Linked DNA regions of Homo sapiens. Changing the gene in region 1 together with any one later gene gives a genetic interaction. Each region holds a gene or a part of one and is shown in the gene's direction. Other genes may lie near its edges.

What was found. Genes that interact genetically often act in the same process or in processes that back each other up.
Region 2: changes in TBL1XR1 (region 1) and VPS45 together harm fitness less than expected from each alone (positive genetic interaction), as found in Homo sapiens cells (one large-scale study listed by BioGRID).
Region 3: changes in TBL1XR1 (region 1) and B3GNT2 together harm fitness more than expected from each alone (negative genetic interaction), as found in Homo sapiens cells (one large-scale study listed by BioGRID).
Region 4: changes in TBL1XR1 (region 1) and SEC23IP together harm fitness more than expected from each alone (negative genetic interaction), as found in Homo sapiens cells (one large-scale study listed by BioGRID).

The regions. Positions count from the first base shown.
Region 1 is NC_000003.12:177,047,483-177,051,420, reverse strand, and holds part of TBL1XR1 (F-box-like/WD repeat-containing protein TBL1XR1), read left to right. Parts: intron 1-810; coding exon 811-943; intron 944-1,282; coding exon 1,283-1,424; intron 1,425-3,497; exon of another isoform or gene 3,498-3,787; intron 3,788-3,871; coding exon 3,872-3,935; intron 3,936-3,938. UniProt on the Homo sapiens protein: F-box-like protein involved in the recruitment of the ubiquitin/19S proteasome complex to nuclear receptor-regulated transcription units. Plays an essential role in transcription activation mediated by nuclear receptors.
Region 2 is NC_000001.11:150,073,852-150,078,547, forward strand, and holds part of VPS45 (vacuolar protein sorting-associated protein 45), read left to right. Parts: intron 1-2,381; coding exon 2,382-2,461; intron 2,462-3,064; coding exon 3,065-3,133; intron 3,134-3,242; coding exon 3,243-3,380; intron 3,381-3,817; coding exon 3,818-3,928; intron 3,929-4,696. UniProt on the Homo sapiens protein: May play a role in vesicle-mediated protein trafficking from the Golgi stack through the trans-Golgi network.
Region 3 is NC_000002.12:62,194,372-62,199,686, forward strand, and holds the start of B3GNT2 (N-acetyllactosaminide beta-1,3-N-acetylglucosaminyltransferase 2), read left to right. Parts: upstream 1-1,743; 5' UTR 1,744-1,984; intron 1,985-5,315. UniProt on the Homo sapiens protein: Beta-1,3-N-acetylglucosaminyltransferase involved in the synthesis of poly-N-acetyllactosamine. Catalyzes the initiation and elongation of poly-N-acetyllactosamine chains. Shows a marked preference for Gal(beta1-4)Glc(NAc)-based acceptors.
Region 4 is NC_000010.11:119,891,063-119,896,301, forward strand, and holds the start of SEC23IP (SEC23-interacting protein), read left to right. Parts: upstream 1-1,667; 5' UTR 1,668-1,720; coding exon 1,721-1,883; intron 1,884-5,239. UniProt on the Homo sapiens protein: Plays a role in the organization of endoplasmic reticulum exit sites. Specifically binds to phosphatidylinositol 3-phosphate (PI(3)P), phosphatidylinositol 4-phosphate (PI(4)P) and phosphatidylinositol 5-phosphate (PI(5)P).

The DNA.
Region 1 (3,938 bases):
GTTTGTTATATAGATGAACTCATATCACAGGGGTTTGTTGTACAGACTATTTCATCACCCAGGTACTAAGCCTAGTGCCCAATAGTTATTTTTTCTGATCCTCCTCTTCCTCCCACCCTCCACCCCCCAGGAAGGTCCCAGGAGACAAGAATTTTTAAAAATTTTTTCTCAGAAGAAATGCCCCATCTTCTATGCTGAAATAATTTCATCTGTTAACTTGCACCAACTTGTTTCCCTAACTTGTATCACACAGTTCAATTCAGATTTTTATTCCTAAAGCTCCAAAAAGCTAGATTTACTTTTATTTTCTTTTTAAAATATCTAGAAACCCTTTTCCCATTGTTAAATGAATTTTTACATCTACATTTGATTTCTAAATAAAATTTGTAATACTAGTTATCAACAAATAACCATAGAGCTCTGACATCGAGATAAAAGGCAACTCATGTTATATGAATGATATCAGCAACCCCTACTGGCAGAAACTCAGAATAGTACTGATAGACATTATATTTAATTCAAACCATTTTATCGTTTTATCCATGTTTAGGTCTAATCATTTAAAGTCTCCCATCCCACTCCCACCCCCACCCCTCTAAAAAAAAAGTATGTGGTCAATACTTAATTAAAGATAAGAATTTATTTTCTGTGTGACTAAGACTGTGTAGTCATGTTCAGCTTAACTGGATATAATTGAAAAATGTTACACTGTGTGCGATAAAGGAAGGTATTTGCTAGTTAAGAAATCACCCATCCACCATGTTGTAATACTGCCTAACTGGAAATGCTTACTTGTGTTTCACGATGCAGATAATCATACTGATATGATGGAAGTGGATGGGGATGTTGAAATCCCTCCTAATAAAGCTGTTGTGTTGCGGGGCCATGAATCTGAAGTTTTTATCTGTGCCTGGAACCCTGTTAGTGATCTCCTAGCATCAGGGTATGTTTCTCAAAGTGATACTAAAATGACTTAAAAATATCTTATTGAACATTTTATAAACATATGCATTATTCAGGTTTTCTGTTGTTGCTTAGTTGTGGCCATTTTGTCTCTGTAAATTTTTTATTCCTTCATGAAGTAATTGTAGAATTTTTAATTAAACTTACTATTTCGAGAATGCTTGGGGGTCCCAACGTGTAGAATGGGAAAAATACTGGAAATGAAAATTCGTGATAGTCGTTTTTATTTGCCTTATTAATATTCAGATGTAAATATGTTGCCTTGTTCTGATACGTGAGAATGTCATGAGGATCTAAAATATATTGCATACTTTTATAGGTCTGGAGACTCAACAGCAAGAATATGGAATCTTAGTGAGAACAGCACCAGTGGCTCTACACAGTTAGTACTTAGACATTGTATACGAGAAGGAGGGCAAGATGTTCCAAGCAACAAGGATGTCACATCTCTAGATTGGAATGTGAGTATCACTATATCCATGATGGATATAATTACTAGTATACCTAACCCTCAGAGCCTCATACTCACGGCAGGGTTTGTCTATTTGTTCAGAATTTGGGGTTTTATTAACTAGTAACAACAAACCGGGAGTCGTCCCCTGCCAGCCCTCTCCCCCACTGTGGGACACAGACTTGCCTTAGTCAGACCAAGGTTCAACATCCAGCTCTTCAGTGTATCCCACAGCATATCCTTGGTTAAATTGTTACTTTTTACTCTGTACTTCATTTTCTTTAAATGTCAAGTAGAAGTGTGAAAATGGTACCTAAATATTTGAGATAATAGGTGAAAATTCTTACCATAATAACAAACAACATACTAAATCTATAACAACCGAGTCCTTAGGGGATAAAAGAATTCTGTGTAGCAAAAAACATGTTCTTGTTTTTCTCTGTATTCTGTGAACTGGTAGAACTTTATTACCAATTTCCTTTTAGGGATCATTAGTCTAGACAACGTCTGAATTTTATTCCCACTGTAGGAATCTTGTAATTCTCTGATTCTGTGTATGATTCAACATCTTTCAGGACAACTTGACTACTGTGACTTACAAAAAACTTTGACTTCGTTGTTGATAAATTCTCACCATTATAGTTTTAAATACATCTCTTACCTCGCTCCGCTACCCCCTGCCCCTCCCCCAAAACTCTTAGATTATTTCAGCATTGCAAAGAATATCAAGATAGTTGTTCTTTGCTCAGCAAATGAATGTTCTTTTCTCTTCTGTTTAACAACCCTTTGTGGACTTTCTAAAGGATCTTCCAATTCTTTTCCCCGGGAATGAGATCTATCTTTAAAATGATTATCCCCACTAAAGTTCTCAGTTTCTGTGAAATGTTTTTTCAGAAATCATAGCTAGGTATTTTTAGCATTTTCTTCCAAAATTGCCAGCAGCATATTTACTCTTCCCCTCCATATGACAATTCTAAAAATTCCAAAGGGGTTTAGCACATTGTAGTATTATTTACTTGTAAGATCAAGACAGAATTATTTTCTTAATATGGGCCCTTATTATATTTTAGTTCAGATATCTTACAGCTTTCTTACGCTACCTGGTCCACTGGCCATGTTAATGAAATTTATAGTTTACACTGAAAAGGATGGTTAATGAATATTGGTTTGTTGAGCTTGGTAGTTCTGAACTGCATTTTATAGTTTTGAAAAGTGTGGGCTTTTAAAAAATGTGTTATTCACGGTGAACTTGGAAAACATTATCCTCGATTAATGATTCTTTTCCATGGCTAAAGCAAGAGAGCCTGTGAGATTTCTCATCTTTACAGTATTTTCCTAGTTGAGCAGTTCATGAACTAAAACATTTAGGGACTGATAGTTTAGAGGAAACTTGACATTGTGTAGGATGTGGAAATAAGCTTTTACTGTTGACTTCAACATGGCTCCCCTTCTTCTTGAGACAGAGCCCTAAGGGATGGCCACATCCCAGCAGAATTGAGTCTGCAGTTCCCAGAACCAGCATTTGTTTTTGTTTGTCACTTAGCCATACTGCTAAATGGCTTGAGAGATGTGAAATAGGTGATCTTGTTTTGAATGCCCTTACCAAAAACCATCAATAATATGTCAAGTAATGCAGGATTTCATTCTCCAGTAATGTTTACTGATTCTAGCAATAGTCTGTTTACTATAATCTGTAACTTCTGTGTTTGCATAGAGTAGGTTAGATCTGTCCTTTTATTACACAATTCATCGAGGCAAGGTGCACAGCAAGGGAATATAAGTTGAGAGAAATTTATATGGACTTTTCCTCCTGGTAAAGTAGGCAGTTGTACTTACTTCATTAACTATAAAGTCAGCCTGTGCTCTTTTCTGGCTCTTTTCCTTGTTGATCTTTTTATTGGCAAATATTTCATAGTGGGAAGGGATTAATAATAGAAAGGAACATTCAAGTATTTAAGAATCTGATCATTCGAAACAATGATATTGTTTGGATCATACCCACACACTTCGTTTTAGACAGTAAAGGATTTAGAGGAATGGCCATATAAAACCTTCTAATCATATTTTAAAGTTTTTCTTTTTTACTTCTAATAAATCATTGTAAGACTATGAATTTGATGTTCTTCCCAGTCCACCACTCTACCTTCATTCTTAGTTGTGTGAGTCTGTGAGAATACTTTTGGCATGCATGAGGTGGGGTGATGTAGATCCTGGTCCAGAGCAATCACTGTCAGTTGTTGAACTTTGGATATAAGGCCCCCATACAACATTAGTGTCACACAGTGGAAGGGTTTCATAGGCCTTTAGTGGCACTCACAAGTAGGCAAAACTGACAAGTTTTGAAGCAGAGAATGTCTTCATTCTCTTCTGTACCTGGGATTTAAACATGAAATACTTTAACAACAATTAAATACCGTATCTAGATTATATAATTAAAGAAATGTTTTTCTCTGGCAGAGTGAAGGTACACTTCTAGCAACTGGTTCCTATGATGGGTTTGCCAGAATATGGACTAAAGATGGTA
Region 2 (4,696 bases), on another chromosome or scaffold:
CTGGTAACCACTAATATTTTCTCCATTTTATATTTTGTCATTCGAAGAATGTTCTATAAATGAAATCATACAGCATATAATCTTTTGGGACTGGCTTTTTTCACTCAGCATAATTCTCTGGAGAGTCATCCAGGCTGTTCTGTGTGTGTGTGTGTGTTGTTTTTGTTTTTTTTTTTTGTCCGAGAAGCAGTCTTGCTTTGTCACCCAGGCTGGAGTGCAGTGTCGCCATCTCAACTCACTGCAACCTCCACCTCCCGGGTTCAAGCGATTCTCCCACCTCAGCCTCCCGAGTAGCTAGGATTACAGGTACACACCACCACGCCCAGCTAATTTTTGTATTTTTTTTTAGTAGAGACAGGGTTTCACCGTGTTGGTTGTCCAGACTGGTCTCAAACTCCTGACCTTGGGTGATACGCCCGCTTCAGCCTCCCGAAGTACTGGGATTACAGGCATGAGCCACCACACCTCACCTGTTGTGTGTATTAATAGTTCATTCCTCCTTTGAGCTGGAACTGCAAAAAAAAAAGTTTTCTTAATTTAAAAATAGTTCATTTCTTTTTATTGCTGAGTAGTATTCCATGGTATGAATGTACCACAGTTTGTTTAACTATACACCATTGAAGGACATATGAGTTATTTCCAGTTTTGGCTATTACAAATAAAGCTGCTATAAATATCTGTGTACAGATTTTTATGTGAACATTAAGTCTTCATTCTCTGGGGTAAATAACCCCCAGGAGTGCAACTGCTGAGTCATATGGTAATTCCATGTGTGATCTGCCCACCTTGGCCTCCCAAAGTGATGGGATTACAGGTGTGAGCCACCGCACCGAACTTTTAAAGACATACAAAAGTAGAATAGTATCATAAGTTCCAATGTACCTATCAGCTGGTTTCAACAATTATTGAGCCTCACCCAATCTTGTTTTAGCTATACTGTCACCTACTTCTCCAGCAATATTATTTTAAAGCAAATCTAAGACATTATATAATTTTATCCATAAGTATTTCAGTAGGCATCTCTAAAAGATAAGGACTCATTTTTTTAAAAAACACATTTCCATTATTACATCTAGATTAAAAGTGAAAAATAATTATTTATTCTTTTTTTTTTTTTTTTTTTTTTTTGAGACACAGTCTCCCTCTGTCACCCAGACAGAGTGCAGTGGCATGATCTCGGCTCACTGTAACCTCAACTTCCCAGGTTCAAGTGATGTTGCCCAGGCTGGTCTTGAACTCTTAGTACCATTTTCAAATAACCATTCAGCGTTCAAATTTAAAATTGTCTTTTTTTTTTTTTTTTTTTACAGTTTTTTAAAATCAGGATCAAAGTAAGGTTCACACATTGCTGTTGGTTGATATGTTAAGTTTCTTAATCTTCTGTATAGGTCCTCCCACCCCTGCCCCTGCTGCCCCATGCAATTTATTTATTGAAGAAACTGTTAAGTTTTCCACAGACTGGATCTTGCTGATTGCATCCCCAGGGGGTAGTTTAACATGTTCCTTGAAGTTTAAAATATTCCTCTGTCTTCTAGTTCCTGTAAATTCATAGGTGAATACAGAGCCTTAATTAGGTTAAGATTTGATTTCTTCTTGGCAAGAATACTTTATAGGTGGTATTGTGTGCTTTCATTGGCTGCTTATTCTTTTGATATTAGTAGCTGCTGATGCTCAATGCCTGGGTCCATTCAATTGATTCATTGGGGGTTAGAAAAAATGATGATATTCTAATTCTGTCATTAACATTTGTTAGTTATTGTTGAGCTGGAATGTTTTCACAAAGAAAAATTTTCCCTCATCTATTTGGTTACCTGGTAGTACAGTTTATATATAAAAGACAGCATGAAAGTTTACTTCTTTCTCCTTATTTTCAATAAAATGACTTACTTCCCTAGTATTCTCATTCTCCAATTCCTCCGATGGAGTCTTCCTCTATCGCCCAGGCTGGAGTGCAGTGGCCTGATCTGGGCTCACTGCAAGCTCTGCCTCCTGGGTTCATGCCATTCTCCTGTCTCAGCCTCCCGAGTAGCTGGGACTACAGGCGTCCGCCACCACGCCCAGCTAATTTTTTTTTGTATTTTTAGTAGAGACGGGGTTTCACCGTGTTAGCCAGGATGGTCTCGATCTCCTGACCTCATGATCCACCTGCCTCAGCCTCCCAAAGTGCTGGGATTACAGGTGTGAGCCACCGCGCCTGGCCAGTCCTTTTAAAATATATATATATATATATATAAAATTATGAATTTGTGGATTAAATATATTTTTGCTACCCATTCCAATTTGAAGGTCACTTATTCATTAGGCTTTAACTATCAGGCCCTTTTACATATATTGCAGCAGAAATTATCTCCTTTGAGTCAACCCCAACTCATGTGTTTCAGATTTCAGTAATGTGATCAGCAAGAGTGACGTGAAGTCATTGGCTGAAGCTGATGAACAGGAAGTTGTGGCTGAGGTTCAGGTAAACATATTGGTCCTGTAACACATCTCGTATGTTGGCCCTTTTTAAATATTTGAGTCTAAAAATAAAAAATAAGGAAAGGTCTGTCTCAAAAGAAGTTTTATTATGAATACTTGAATATGTTTATCACATAAATGAGGAATATTGTTTTCAGAGGCAGCAAATAAACTAGTTTTGAATTTTTCAGAAGGATGTGATAGGTGATAAATGAATAAAAAGAATACCTGTTTTAAATTATATTCTCTCTCATGACAACACATTGGACAGCAAAGTTCTTTTTTATCTGAGTAGAACATTGTATCTCCTATTAGCAGTATTTTATTTTTACTAATTGATAAGTATGCATAGAGGTCTCCAGAAATATAATGTGTATAACCTTACAACCTTTATTTGTTAGATTTATTATTATTGCTACTGTTTTGTAATTATTTTAATTCTCCCACGTTGACTGTTGTTACCCAATTATTAATTGAACAATTTAGTATCTCTTTACACCTGTATTTCACAAAGTTTGGCTATATCATATTATATCACTTATGAAAATATTACTGCTTGATACAATTGAAGTTTATGGAATGACTATTCTTGGTGCTTTATTTGCAGGAATTTTATGGTGATTACATTGCTGTGAACCCACATTTGTTTTCCCTCAATATTTTGGGTTGCTGCCAGGTATGGAAGGAAAGGTTTAATTTATCAGTCGAGAGTTAATTCAGCAAATAATTAGACTTGTAAGAGAAAATTCAAATATTTTCTCTGAATATATGTTTTTAACAAAAAGGGTCGAAATTGGGATCCAGCCCAGCTATCTAGAACAACTCAAGGGCTTACAGCTCTCCTTTTATCTCTGAAGAAGTGTCCCATGATTCGTTATCAGCTCTCATCAGAGGCAGCAAAGAGACTTGCAGAGTGCGTTAAGGTATGGCATTACCTATTCCTGGTTCCAAAACATAAAGGCCATTCATTTCTCTATCATATTTCAGAAACTAAAGGAATAGTTTATTTACAACCAAGGAGATGATTGTATGTTAGGTTTCCGCGAAAAGAGGTAGGTATATGTAATTTAAAACAAAAAGCAACAATTAGAGCTAAGATTCTTAGGTTTAACCCAAGAAACATTCACAAGCTATTTAACTTTTTTTGGTCCAGTTAAACCACTTATAAAATAGGGTTTCATATCCTAACCTCTTAAATAGTATGCTACTAAACTTTGTGAGACTTTTGAATCCTTCATATGGAAGATCTATGTGGGTGCAAAGAACTATTGTTAAATGTAGTGTTTATTAATTTCCTATTTATATCATTTCTATATGTAACTAGATGGTTGCACAAACCATCTTTCTCTCTCACCCACAGCAAGTGATAACTAAAGAATATGAACTGTTTGAATTCCGTCGGACAGAGGTTCCTCCATTGCTCCTTATTTTAGATCGCTGTGATGATGCCATCACCCCATTGCTAAACCAGGTACAAAACCCTTTCTTGGCATAATAGAAGGATAATTTTAAGTGATATTCATCAAAATACAGATAGGGAAGTAAAAACATGGTCCATTTATTTGCCTCCTTATTTTTAGCTATTCTTGGTTTTGCTTTGTATTTCCTGGTGTTTTGGTATCATGATTCTTCCATCCACTGTCATCATAACTCTTCTGCTTCATCTCTCCTGTACCTTTCTGCCAGTACCTCCACCCCTAATCAAGACAGCTTCTTAATTCTGTAGATTCTATTTCCCTGTGTTTCCTTCTGTCTCCTCATTTCCATGCTTACAGCCATTGCCTTGGTCTAGATCCTAATCTCTTGCAAGAATATTGAAATAGTCATCTACTTCGTTCCCTACTTTTTATTTCTTCTCACTCCAAATGTTCCACAAGTACAATTTCCTAAAGCACAGCTCTATCTTATTACTCTTGGCTTAAAAAACTTCATTGGTTCCCATTTGCCTACTAGGTTAAAAAGAAACTCCTGAACTTGGCATCCAAGAGCCTTCACAATGTGGGCTAAACCTCTTATAAAACCTAGAGTTCACCACTTACATAGATAATGCCACATGGTTTCCTGCCAGCATGCTTTTACTGTGACTGCTTTCTAAACTCTAGAATGTTTGGAATACCTTCTCTTCCCATCTTCACCTATCAAAATACTGCTGTTAAAACCACTCAATCTGGCCGGGCACGGTCGCTCACGCCTGTAATCCCAGCACTTTGGGAGGCCAAGGTGGCTGGATCACCTGAGG
Region 3 (5,315 bases), on another chromosome or scaffold:
CAGGCGTGAGCCACCGCGCCCGGCCTCTACTTCCTAGAGTTCTTAGAGAATTTCTAGCTTCTGTTTCTTTAAACATGTTTTATTAGCTTTCTAAATTATGAAAGTAAATACAACTGGAAAAATACAAAATCCAAAGTCAAGGGAGTAAAAAAATGTAACTCCCTTGTTTCCCCTCCCCGCGTAACCGTGGTTAACAGTCGGTGTGCACCCTTACAGATGTTTTTTCTATGAAAATACAAACATTCGACTTGTTTCTTGGACTTTACCTCGCAGTCCGAGGAGAATCATGTGAACAGCATGAAAGCAGCATGGTCCGAAGACTGCAAACCATAACATTTCCATATCTACTGACTCTGAATTCCTGTTTCTAGAGGACCCGCACCCACGTGGCTCTGTGCATCCGCAGCAACTTGGTCTTTCTTCCTTTGCTGAGTTTGGTTAAGGGAAAGGGCCGATTATTGAGTGGGCTCAGTTCACAGGTGCCTGAAATTCCTACTTAGCAATGTTCCTTTCCAGCTGATTCCGCCTCCGAGAGCCTTAGGAAAAAATGCTAACAGTTAGGAGCGAAGCGTCCTTAATTGCTCAGTCCAATTATCTAGATGGGTCCAGGTTCGGTTTCGATTCAGAGATAAGGACCAGGGGGCGGGGACGCTTCCAGGTGAGCCCCTGGTTAGGCTTGCCTCCCCGCGGAGCGCACGCGGGTCTCGCTGGCTGGACTGGGCCTTTCAAGACCAGGTAACTTCTCCATCCGGTATCGCCAGGCTTACCTGGGGGCCTCAGAATTGTGTCAGCTGCGTCTCTGAGTCACCTTGGAACCCCTCGAAGGAGCGCGGGGCTAGGAGGGCGCATCGGTGGGCCCGGGGACCCCGCTGCTAGGTGTGGTTGGCGCCAAGGCCGCCTCTGGCCGGCGGAGCCCTGCAGTGTCCGGAGGGTGCGGTCAGAGTCCGGCCCTTTAGGCCTTGCCTCGGTATCCGCCTTGCCCCTTGGGCCGCGGCACGGGTTCGGGCCGAGCGCCCGGCATCTTGCGTTTCTGGCTTCCTGAGACGGGCGTGGGACCTCGAGGAAACCACTCTGCATGACCCCACGAAGAGAACTAAGGACCACCCCCCACCCTTCCTGTCCTGGACGGCTTCATAAGCCAGAGGATCCAGTGGCAGTACCAAGCAGGGCACCACTCTGGGTCGTGAGCACCTAAGAGGTGGAGCAAAGGTCAGACCCCAGGGTGGCCCAGGCCTCCCTCCCCCGCCTCCCCGGCGGGGCCATTCCTCACCCGCCCCAGCACTGGAGGGGGCGGCCGGGGTCGGTCTAGTTCCGGTTACAAACTGGACAGAAAAGGCCACTGGAGTCTCGCTAGGCGATGCGCCTAGTCCCCTAGCCTCAGACGAACCGCAAGAGGGGCCACCCACAACTGGAGGGGCGGAGGCTGGAGCTGAGTTTCATTAGTGTTTTTGGAGCTGCCAGGCATTTCCAGGGGGGTCGCCTTCCTAGAGGCCCCCTTTCCCCAGCTTAACCCTCGGCTTTGCAGGAGGGTGCGTGGGGGCTGGAGGGTCCCTGGAAGCCGCAGGGAGCGCGGGCCCGGGTGGGTCCTGGTACCGGGTGGGGAGAGCGGAACCCTCCCAAAACTTGGGGCGCGGGGCGGGGCCGTCGGGCGGTGACGTGAGGGGCGGGGCCGGGCCCCATTGGCGGGCGGGCAGGGGAGGGGCGGGGCCGGGCGCCCGCGGCGGCTGCTGCGCCTGGAACCGGAGCCTGGAGTGAGGCGCAGCGGCAGCGGCAGCAGCGGCAACAAGTGCCGGAGGCTAGCAGAGCCAAGCCGGAGCAGTCCCTGCCGCCGACACCGCCGGGCCGCCCGTCCGGGGCGCCGCGCATGGAGCGTGAGCTGCGGCGGTCGCCGGGCTGAGCCGCGCGGAGCGGCCGGGACGTGGATGTGGCCGCGATCTCCCGCCCTTGCCCCCGCCCCGCCGAGCTGGAGCTGCTCCCGGACAAGGTAGGGCCCGGGCGCCGAGCACCCCCGCCGGCTCCCTCCCCGCTGCCCTCTCACCGCCAGGCCCCTCTACCAGTCCCCTTCCGCCTCCCTGCTTCCCGGCCCCACCTTCCGGACACCCTGCTACCCCCGCCCGGTTCCTCGCCGGTTCCGGCTTCGTACCCGCGCCCCGGTGGAGGAAGCCGTCCCTAGGTGGCTCCTGCCGCATTTAAGCCTCCCTTACCTTCCCGCCGTCCCAGCCACCCAACCTCAGCCCAGAGGGAGAGGAGAGGGACACCGCCCGCTGCGGGGCTTTGGAACCTCCCAACCCATTCCGTGCCCACCTCGCCCTGGAGCCCGGGGACCTTCCCCCTCCTCGCTGCACCCCAACTTCCGGGGGATCCGGCGCCGGGGCGATGCGGGCTTTGGCAAGGGGCATCTGGGGCCGGGCCTCCTCATCCGGGGCGCGCGGGCATTTCGGGGAGGGGGGCGCGCGTGATTCCTCGCTCGCACCCCCGCACCCCACCCTCGCACTGCGCCGGCCTCCCGTGCCGCATGGGGAGATCAGGTGTTTTGTGAGCCAAAGAGCCGCCGGCAGCCGCTCCCCACCCCCCACCCCCAACCTCTGCCACTTCTGTCTCCGGCTCCCCCAAAACTGGTTTCTGCCAAACTTAGGGAAAACCTTTCGCTTTGACCTTTTAAAAAAAATATTCCACACTGTTTGCGTTGAATGATTAACCAGGCTGCTAGCCCGAGTCGTGGGGGTGGGGTGGGGCGGGGTGGGGTGGGTGCTGCCAGGCCAGGGAGCGCCTGAAGCCGGACTCTACGAGACACCCCTCGTGGGAAGGTGGGCGTGGGGGGCCCTGCCGGGGCTGCGGGCGCGGGACTGGCGGCTACTCCAGCACGGCAGGCGGACCCTTCTGGAGGCAATAAACCGAGTCACCCGGTTAATTTCCAGGCCACGGTATTTGAAACTCGGGGCTGGGGAGCCGCAGAACTCCCTGTACCCCCATCAAGTAGAGGAGCCGTCGGGAGACTCCCCACAAGTGTCACAGCGTCAAAGCTCATCTTTAAAAATATGTACATTTATAACCTGGGTTGGCGAGGCGGCGCTCTTCTGCCCAAAACGTAGGGGTGGTTAGTTTGTAGAGTGGGCTTAGCTCACAGGTGCCTGAGCTGTATCCCCGTGGCCGCCTCAGCCACCCCAACTTCTCAGAAAGATTGTTTAGAACAATTAAACTATATTCTTTTGCCCTTCTCTTGTTGGAACCCTACCGTAATATCCGATAGCGAAGCCAGTTGGTGAATATAGAATTCTACTTGTTAAAACAAATTCTTCCGGTATAATTATTTGTGCCTCTGGAGGTGGTAAACGAGGTGGCCGACAGGGCCGGGACTGGGAGTGAAAAGGCGGGGACCCTGGCCGAGCCAGTCCCGGGGCTCCGGTGCCGGCTTATAGTCGCACCCATGCGGATCTGACAGCTGACCCGGAGGGAGGACCGGCAGGGCAGGGCAGGGCGGTCACTTCCCATTGTCCTAACTCCTGCTCCTGGTTCTTTTGAGTAGAGGGTGGTTAAGCCTGGAGGAATTTGGGAGAGTTTTACTCGGAGCCCATGCGCTCTTAAACCAGATTAGATTTTAAGAACACAGAAGTGAAGGAGCCCCATAGGGCTGTACTTGAGTAATTTGAGTAATCCTTTTCCTCCCTGCTCAGACTTTACAAATGTGTTTATCATTAGATCTTCTGTTTGAAACTACTTTTTTAGTTCGGAATATTGCTTTTTCTCCCTACAGCAAGGGTTCACTGTTTCTCATTTAGTTTTTGTGCAGGCGGCATTTGTATGATGAAGGCCTAATTCTCTGTGAAACTGACCAGTTCTCACCCTTGCCATTCATTAGACTTGATTCTGCCACATTTAATTCAGTGATCTTGGGCAAGTTATTCTTCACCTGAGCCTCATTTTACACATCTGGTTTTGGGGATGGTGGTGTTTGCTCTGCAAGATTATTTCTGAGGACAAATAGGATGTTTGCCAAACTCCTAGCACTGCACCAGGAGAGCTAAGAAGTGCTTAATAAATGGTGGTCATTGCTGTAATCAATAGAGAAGTTCCTCCTGGCATCGACTTCCCCTTACCAAAAACAGTAACCCTGTGGTAGCCTTTTAGATTTCCCTGTCTGAGACTGAAATCAGCCACATTTGGCAGATGCACATCAGAAGGTTCTTAAAACCTAAGTAGTATTTTGAGGAAAATAAGCATGATTTGCTTGTTGTTCAAAAATTATGAATTTTTTTCTGGGCTTCTGGTGAAGGGCTGAATATATGAAGGTTTGTAGTTTTGAAAATTTTCTTGTTTTAAAGAAAAGTCATGTTTTAGGTTTCTGATAAACTAAAGTTGTGCTAAAAATAGGAAAGTAGAACTGATAATTCATAGTTGATTTTGACTATACTGTTCAGATATGTGGTTTTTTTTAAAAAAAATAGTTGCATTAGTGAGGCATCGTTGGTATGTTCTGAAGAGAAATATGCAGGGCTTTTTCAGCTGATGCAGGGATAAAAGAAAAGGTGAATCTTCTGTTTCTCAAACTTTGAAACTTAGCTTTAAATGTTTTTTTCTTTTTTTTTTGAAATGGAGTCTCACTCTCCCGCCCAGGCTGGAGTGCAGTGGTGCAATCTCAGCTCACTGCAACCGCTGCCTCTTGGATTCAAGTGATTCTCCTGCCTCAGCCTCCCCAGTAGCTGGGATTACAGGCATCCACCACCACGCCTGGCTAATTTTTGTGTCTTTAGTAGAGACAGGGTTTCACTGTGTTGGCCAGGCTGGTCTCGAACTCCTGACCTGGTGATCCACCCGCCTAGGCCTCCCAAAGTGCTGGGATTACAGACGTAAGCCACCGCGCCTGGCCTTAGCTTTAAATGTTTTCTAGCAATGCTAGGGTTTCATGAAAATCCTAATTTAGGGATGCTGATCCACAGCTGTTAATACTCTTGACATACTGGGTCAGTGCTTTTCATTCTTTCTGACTTGGTTAATGGATGTAGTATTTGACTGTATTTTTCTGTATTTTTTTGATGGTTTTATTGGAAAGTCTGTTAGAGACTTTAAAAATTAATAACTGCCTATGGTTACTTTTATAAACATTGAGACCTTGAGATCTTGCAACTAGGATAATACTTGGTGATGTGTAATCTATTGCAACATCCCTGATGGTGGTACATACATCACCAATACTGAAAGATTCTCATAAAGGCCTTTTGGTCTCTTATGTAAGTGCCCAGGGGAAACTAAAGTCATTTGGTTGCTTGGTATTTTTGGTGTGTACAGAAGGTTAAAACATGAATTAAACTAGACTC
Region 4 (5,239 bases), on another chromosome or scaffold:
CCAACCCTTCACACTCCTCAGCACCTTTCCCTTAGCACACCACAGCCTCTAAAAAGCCTCCAAATTTTTGTTTCAGCAAAGTTGTGTTCAGTTCATGCTGGACCCAATTCCCTAGCAATAGTTTTCATTAAATAAAATCTAATTTACTGCTTTAACGAGTGTCCCACTTAAAAAATTTTTCTTGACAGTAAGCACATGAAATCGTTATTGAATTAATAAACTTAGGTTCTATATATGTGTAAACAGCTGAGCAGAGTTTCATTATTTTGAGCGTTCTTTTGGTATCTCCTCTCCCAACCTCCAAGAAGCTGAAATATGGCTTAAGTTATATTTTCCTTCAAAATCTCTAACTATGAAAGATGACAATTATGTCCAAGTTATCCACAGTACCTCCTGGATTGAAGTAAGTCAGCTTACTGTGGATATAGAAAGCTATCTAAAATGTCAGATCTCTAATTTCAATGCCCTGGTTTCTTTTTTTTTCTTTTTTTTTTTTTTAAGGAGACAGGGTCTCGCTGCACAGTGAGTGGCAAGATCAGGGTTAATTTGGCCTCAAGCAATATTCCCGCCTCAGCCTCCTGAGTAGCTGGCAATATAGGTGCTATGCCACCAAGCCCGGCTAATTTTTGTATTTTTAGTAGAGACGGGGTTTCACCATGTTGGCCAGGTTGGTCTCAACCTTCTGGGCTCAAGCTATCCTCCCGCTCTGCCTCACAAAGTGCTGGGATTGCAGGCCTGCGCCATGGCGTCTGGTTTGATTTCTCTTTTAAATATTTTTTTTGGCCAGGCGTGGTGGTTCATGCCTATAATCCCAGCAGTTTGGGAGGCCAAGGCGGGCAGATCACGAGGTCAGGAGATTGAGACCATCCTGGCCAACCCGGTGAAACCTCGTCTTTACTAAAAATACAAAAAATTAGCCAGGCGTGGTGGCGGACGCCTGTAGTCCCAGCTACTCGGAGGCTGAGGCAGGAGAATCGCTTGAACCCGGGAGGCGGAGATTGCAATGAGCCCAGACTGCACCGCTGCACTCCAGCCTGGGCGACACAGCAGACTTGTCTCAAAACAAAAAACAAAACCAACCAAAAAAACAAAAAACAAATGCAAAACAAAAAACAACAAAAATAAAACGAAATATTTTTTTCTCCCTATGGATTAAACACTTAAAAAATGTTTTACCACTTCTATTTCTGGGTCAACCACAATGTTCGGTTCCATCCAGAAAGACAAGTGGGTTTTGGAGAGGGTGTTTGGTTCCGCCTAGCATGCGAATTCCCATTCCCGCACAACGCTCTTCCTCCCTTCCTCCTTCCGGTAGCGTCCAGCAGGATTCCGCTGTTCCTCCAAAATCTTTGTCAGGAGAGCCATCCTGACGGTACCTTTAGGAAGCCCATAGATACCCGCCACAACCTGTGACTTTCAGGGTCAATTGCGTCTCAATTCGCACGTCTATCCAGAACCTGCGGGGACCACGTCCCCATCCTCCCGCCCGGCCTCCGCCTCCGAGGGTGTCACGTGCTAGACGCGGGCGTGAAGACAGTGTCGCCATGTTGATATCTGGCGTCGCCGTGTAGGGGAAGGGAGAGGGCGGCTGACTAGCTACCCGTAATTTCGGCTCCTGTGCGCAAGTGCGGAAGTGCGCTGGCCAGGAGCGTGATCGGTTTCCGGTCAGTGGTGTGGTACCGGGTACCCGGAGACGTGTATCGGACGGTGGGCCGCAGCCATGGCCGAGAGAAAACCTAACGGTGGCAGCGGCGGCGCCTCCACTTCCTCATCGGGCACTAACTTACTTTTCTCCTCCTCGGCCACGGAGTTCAGCTTCAATGTGCCCTTCATCCCAGTCACCCAGGCCTCCGCTTCTCCGGCCTCCCTGCTCTTACCGGGAGGTAATAAGGGGAGGGCGGCCCCGTGTGTGGTGGGAGGCGGGCGGGGGACGTGCAATGACAAAGGTCAGACGGGAGTTTTTCCTTCTGCCTCGAGCTACCCTCTGGATAGCTTGCCAGGATCATTACTGGCCAGGTTTGAGTGGGTCGGGGGCTTTGGGATCTTGGAGGTGGCAGGTGATGAGACTTGCTCTTCACGGAAACCCCCTGTTCCGAGTTGTCCAGAGTGCTGGACATTCATTCGTACCCTGGCATTCCGCAAATCTTTGCTGAATACCCGTTGTTGGTACGCCAGGTGCTGGCAGGAAATGCAAATAAATTAAACAGTGGCCCTCTCCTAGGGTACAGTAGTCTGTCTCCCACTAGGAGACTCCTAGGATACGGTAAGATACCTCCTAGGATGGACTGTGCCCCTCTCCTAGGATACGGTACACTGTCTCCTACTAGGAGATTGTTGTGATACAGTACAATATCTTCTAGGTTACAGTAAGATATCTTATAAGATGGACTGTGCCCCTCTTCTAGAAGCCTGTAATATTTGTGAAGTAGACATATACAATGCATTCCTTATCTTTTTTTTTTTTTTTTTTTTTTTGAGACGGAGTCTTGCTCTGTCGCCCAGGCTGGAATGCAGTGGCGCGATCTCGGCTCACTGCAGCCTCCACCTTCCAGGTTCAAGTGATTCTCCTGCCTCAGCCTCCCGAGTAGCTGGGACTACAGGCGTCTGCCACCATGCCTGGCTAATTTTTGTATTTGTAGTAGAGACAGGGTTCCACCATGTTGGCCAGGATGGTCTCAATCTCCTGACCTCAAGTGATCCGCCTGCCCTGGCCTCCCAAAGTGCTGGGATTACAGGTTTAACCCCCCACCCATTCCTCATCTTTCAAGACAATACATCACTTCTTCCAAGAAGCTGTTTCTTGTTCTCTTAGGCCCCCACTCCTATGTGCACTCCTAGCTCTTTTTTCATATTTGTATTATTGTCCAGGGAGATTGCTTTTTGATGATTATGTAGCATTGCCCAGAGCATAGTGTTTAAGAGCACAGACTGTCTGTATTCCAGTCCTTGCCCTGCCAGTAACTTGCTGTGTGACTGTAGGCATTTTACTTTACCTCTCTGTGCTTCAGTTTCTATGTATGTGTAGCCTCACAGAATTGTAATTAGAAATGCTTTAATTTTTGCAAAGCGCTAAGTATAGTGCGTGCCAGACAGTGTGATTTAATGTTTGTGAAATAAACACACCTGCCTCTCCATTTGGACTGCAGTCTTCTTCAGCAGCTATGACCTAATTGCCTTTTTATCTCCAGGATCTTATTTAGGGCCTAGTACATAGATCCTCTTTGGATGCTGAGTTTCCAGTGAATAATTTATTCTTGTTTGAAGGATGAAAGACAGTTTCATGGAGAAGCGAAGACAGGCACACTGGGAACAGCTGTACATGAAGGTTCCCCTGCCCATGTGTTATGTTTCTTCTTGATGCTTGTCACTACCTGACATGTACACATATTTGTTTATTCCACTGCACTAGGATGTAAGACCATGAAAGCAAAAACTTACTTTTATTCACGATTATATTCCCACTGCCTAGAATGGTGTGTGGTATTTAGTAGACCAATTATTCAGTAGATGTTTGTTGAATGAGTGAAAGGATGGGAGTCAAAATGATGTCTCATTTTGACCTGTGGTTGAAAGGTTAGGTGTTGCTGTCTTTGGTGAAGAACCAGCATGGTTGGAGCAGAATGCTGTGGGAGGATGCAGGAATAAATAGGGCTATACTTGGGGTTTTCTAATTATCCTCTGCACCATTAAAGTTGTTTGGTTATGTCCGTCTTCCTTGCTATGTAGTGTTTGGTTTGTGTGTGTCACTGTGAATTCATGCTAAACGTTTTCATTGTTAAGTCTGGTATAGCTACACCTGTCTTTAATGCTTTTGTTTCTTGGAGACAGTCTGTGTGTGTGTGTGTGTGTGTGTGTGTGTGTGTGTGTGTGTGTGAATATTAATAATTTTAGAACTAAAATTCATCTCTAAAAATCTCAGAAACCCATTCAGAGAATTTCCAGAGACAAAAGAAGAACCTGTCTCCCTGGAAGCAACAGTTAATCATATAAGTGGAAGAGAGACACAGGAAGCAATTTCATACATTCAGCAGACATGGAAGGCCTGGCACAGTGGCTCACGCCTGTAATCCCAGCACTTTGTGGGGCTGAGGCGGGTGGATCACCTGAGGTCAGGAGTTCAAGACCAACCTGGCCAACATGGTGAAACCCCATCTCAACTAAAAACACAAAAGTTAGTTGGATGTGGTGGTGGGCGCCTGTAATCCCAGCTACTCGGGAGGCTGAGGCATGAGAATCGCTTGAGGAGGAGGTTGCAGTGAGCTGAGGTCATGTCACTGCACACTCCACCCTGGGCGACAGAGTGAGACTCCATCTCAAAAACAAAAACCAGACATGGATTGAGCAGTTTCTATTTGCCAGGCACTGTTCCAGAACCTGGGAGACACAGAAGAGCAGACAGCCCTGCCCTCAATGACTGCACAGTATGTGTGTATACACACACACCCACCTGTGTAAGCAACTGTGATACAGGTTTAGAACAGTTAGAAAGAGGGATTGATAGATGGCTATGAATGCTACGGGTATCAGGCTGGCTGAGCCGGGGAATGGATGTCCCTTAGGCCTTCAGGGCCTCTTAGGGGAGGTGATGCTTGAGCTGAGTGTTGAAGGATACATAGAAGTGAGGGAAACTGGAGAGACAGGCATATGTGAAGTCTGAAGGTGTGAAAAAATCTTCAGATTTGGCAGGAGTTAGTGGTTGGTGGAATGGGACAGGGATGGAGCTCATCCCTCTCTCCTGTCCCTTCACCTTTGTCTCCTCTCCCCTGTGTCCTCTGCCCCCAGTAGATCACTTTGACTAGAGTGTGTGCAGTGGAGTGGCCTCAGTGATCTATGGGCCACATATGCCATACTCAGGAGGAGTTTGTAGTTCATCTTGTGGGGTGTTGGGGAGCCTTTGAAGGATTTTCAACAAGGCAGTGAAATTAGACGTGTGTTTCAGAAAGACTGGAGTTTTCTCTAGTCGCACTGGAATAAGGTTGACTGTAGCAAGAGGATTCAGTTGGGAGGCATAGTGAGAGGCTGGCAGTGGCTATGGCAGTCTAGCCTGAGTCAGCCACATTGGGTGTGAGGAGCAGGGAGCAGATGTGCGAGATGTGTGGACTATACAGTTGTAGAGACTCACAGAAGACCAGAGTGTCAGCTCTGTCTGTCAGAACAGAGGCCCATTTTTGTTTAGTTTTAGACCCAAGACTGAGCTCTGTACCTGGCACAGAATGCATCCTGAGTAAATATTTCTTGA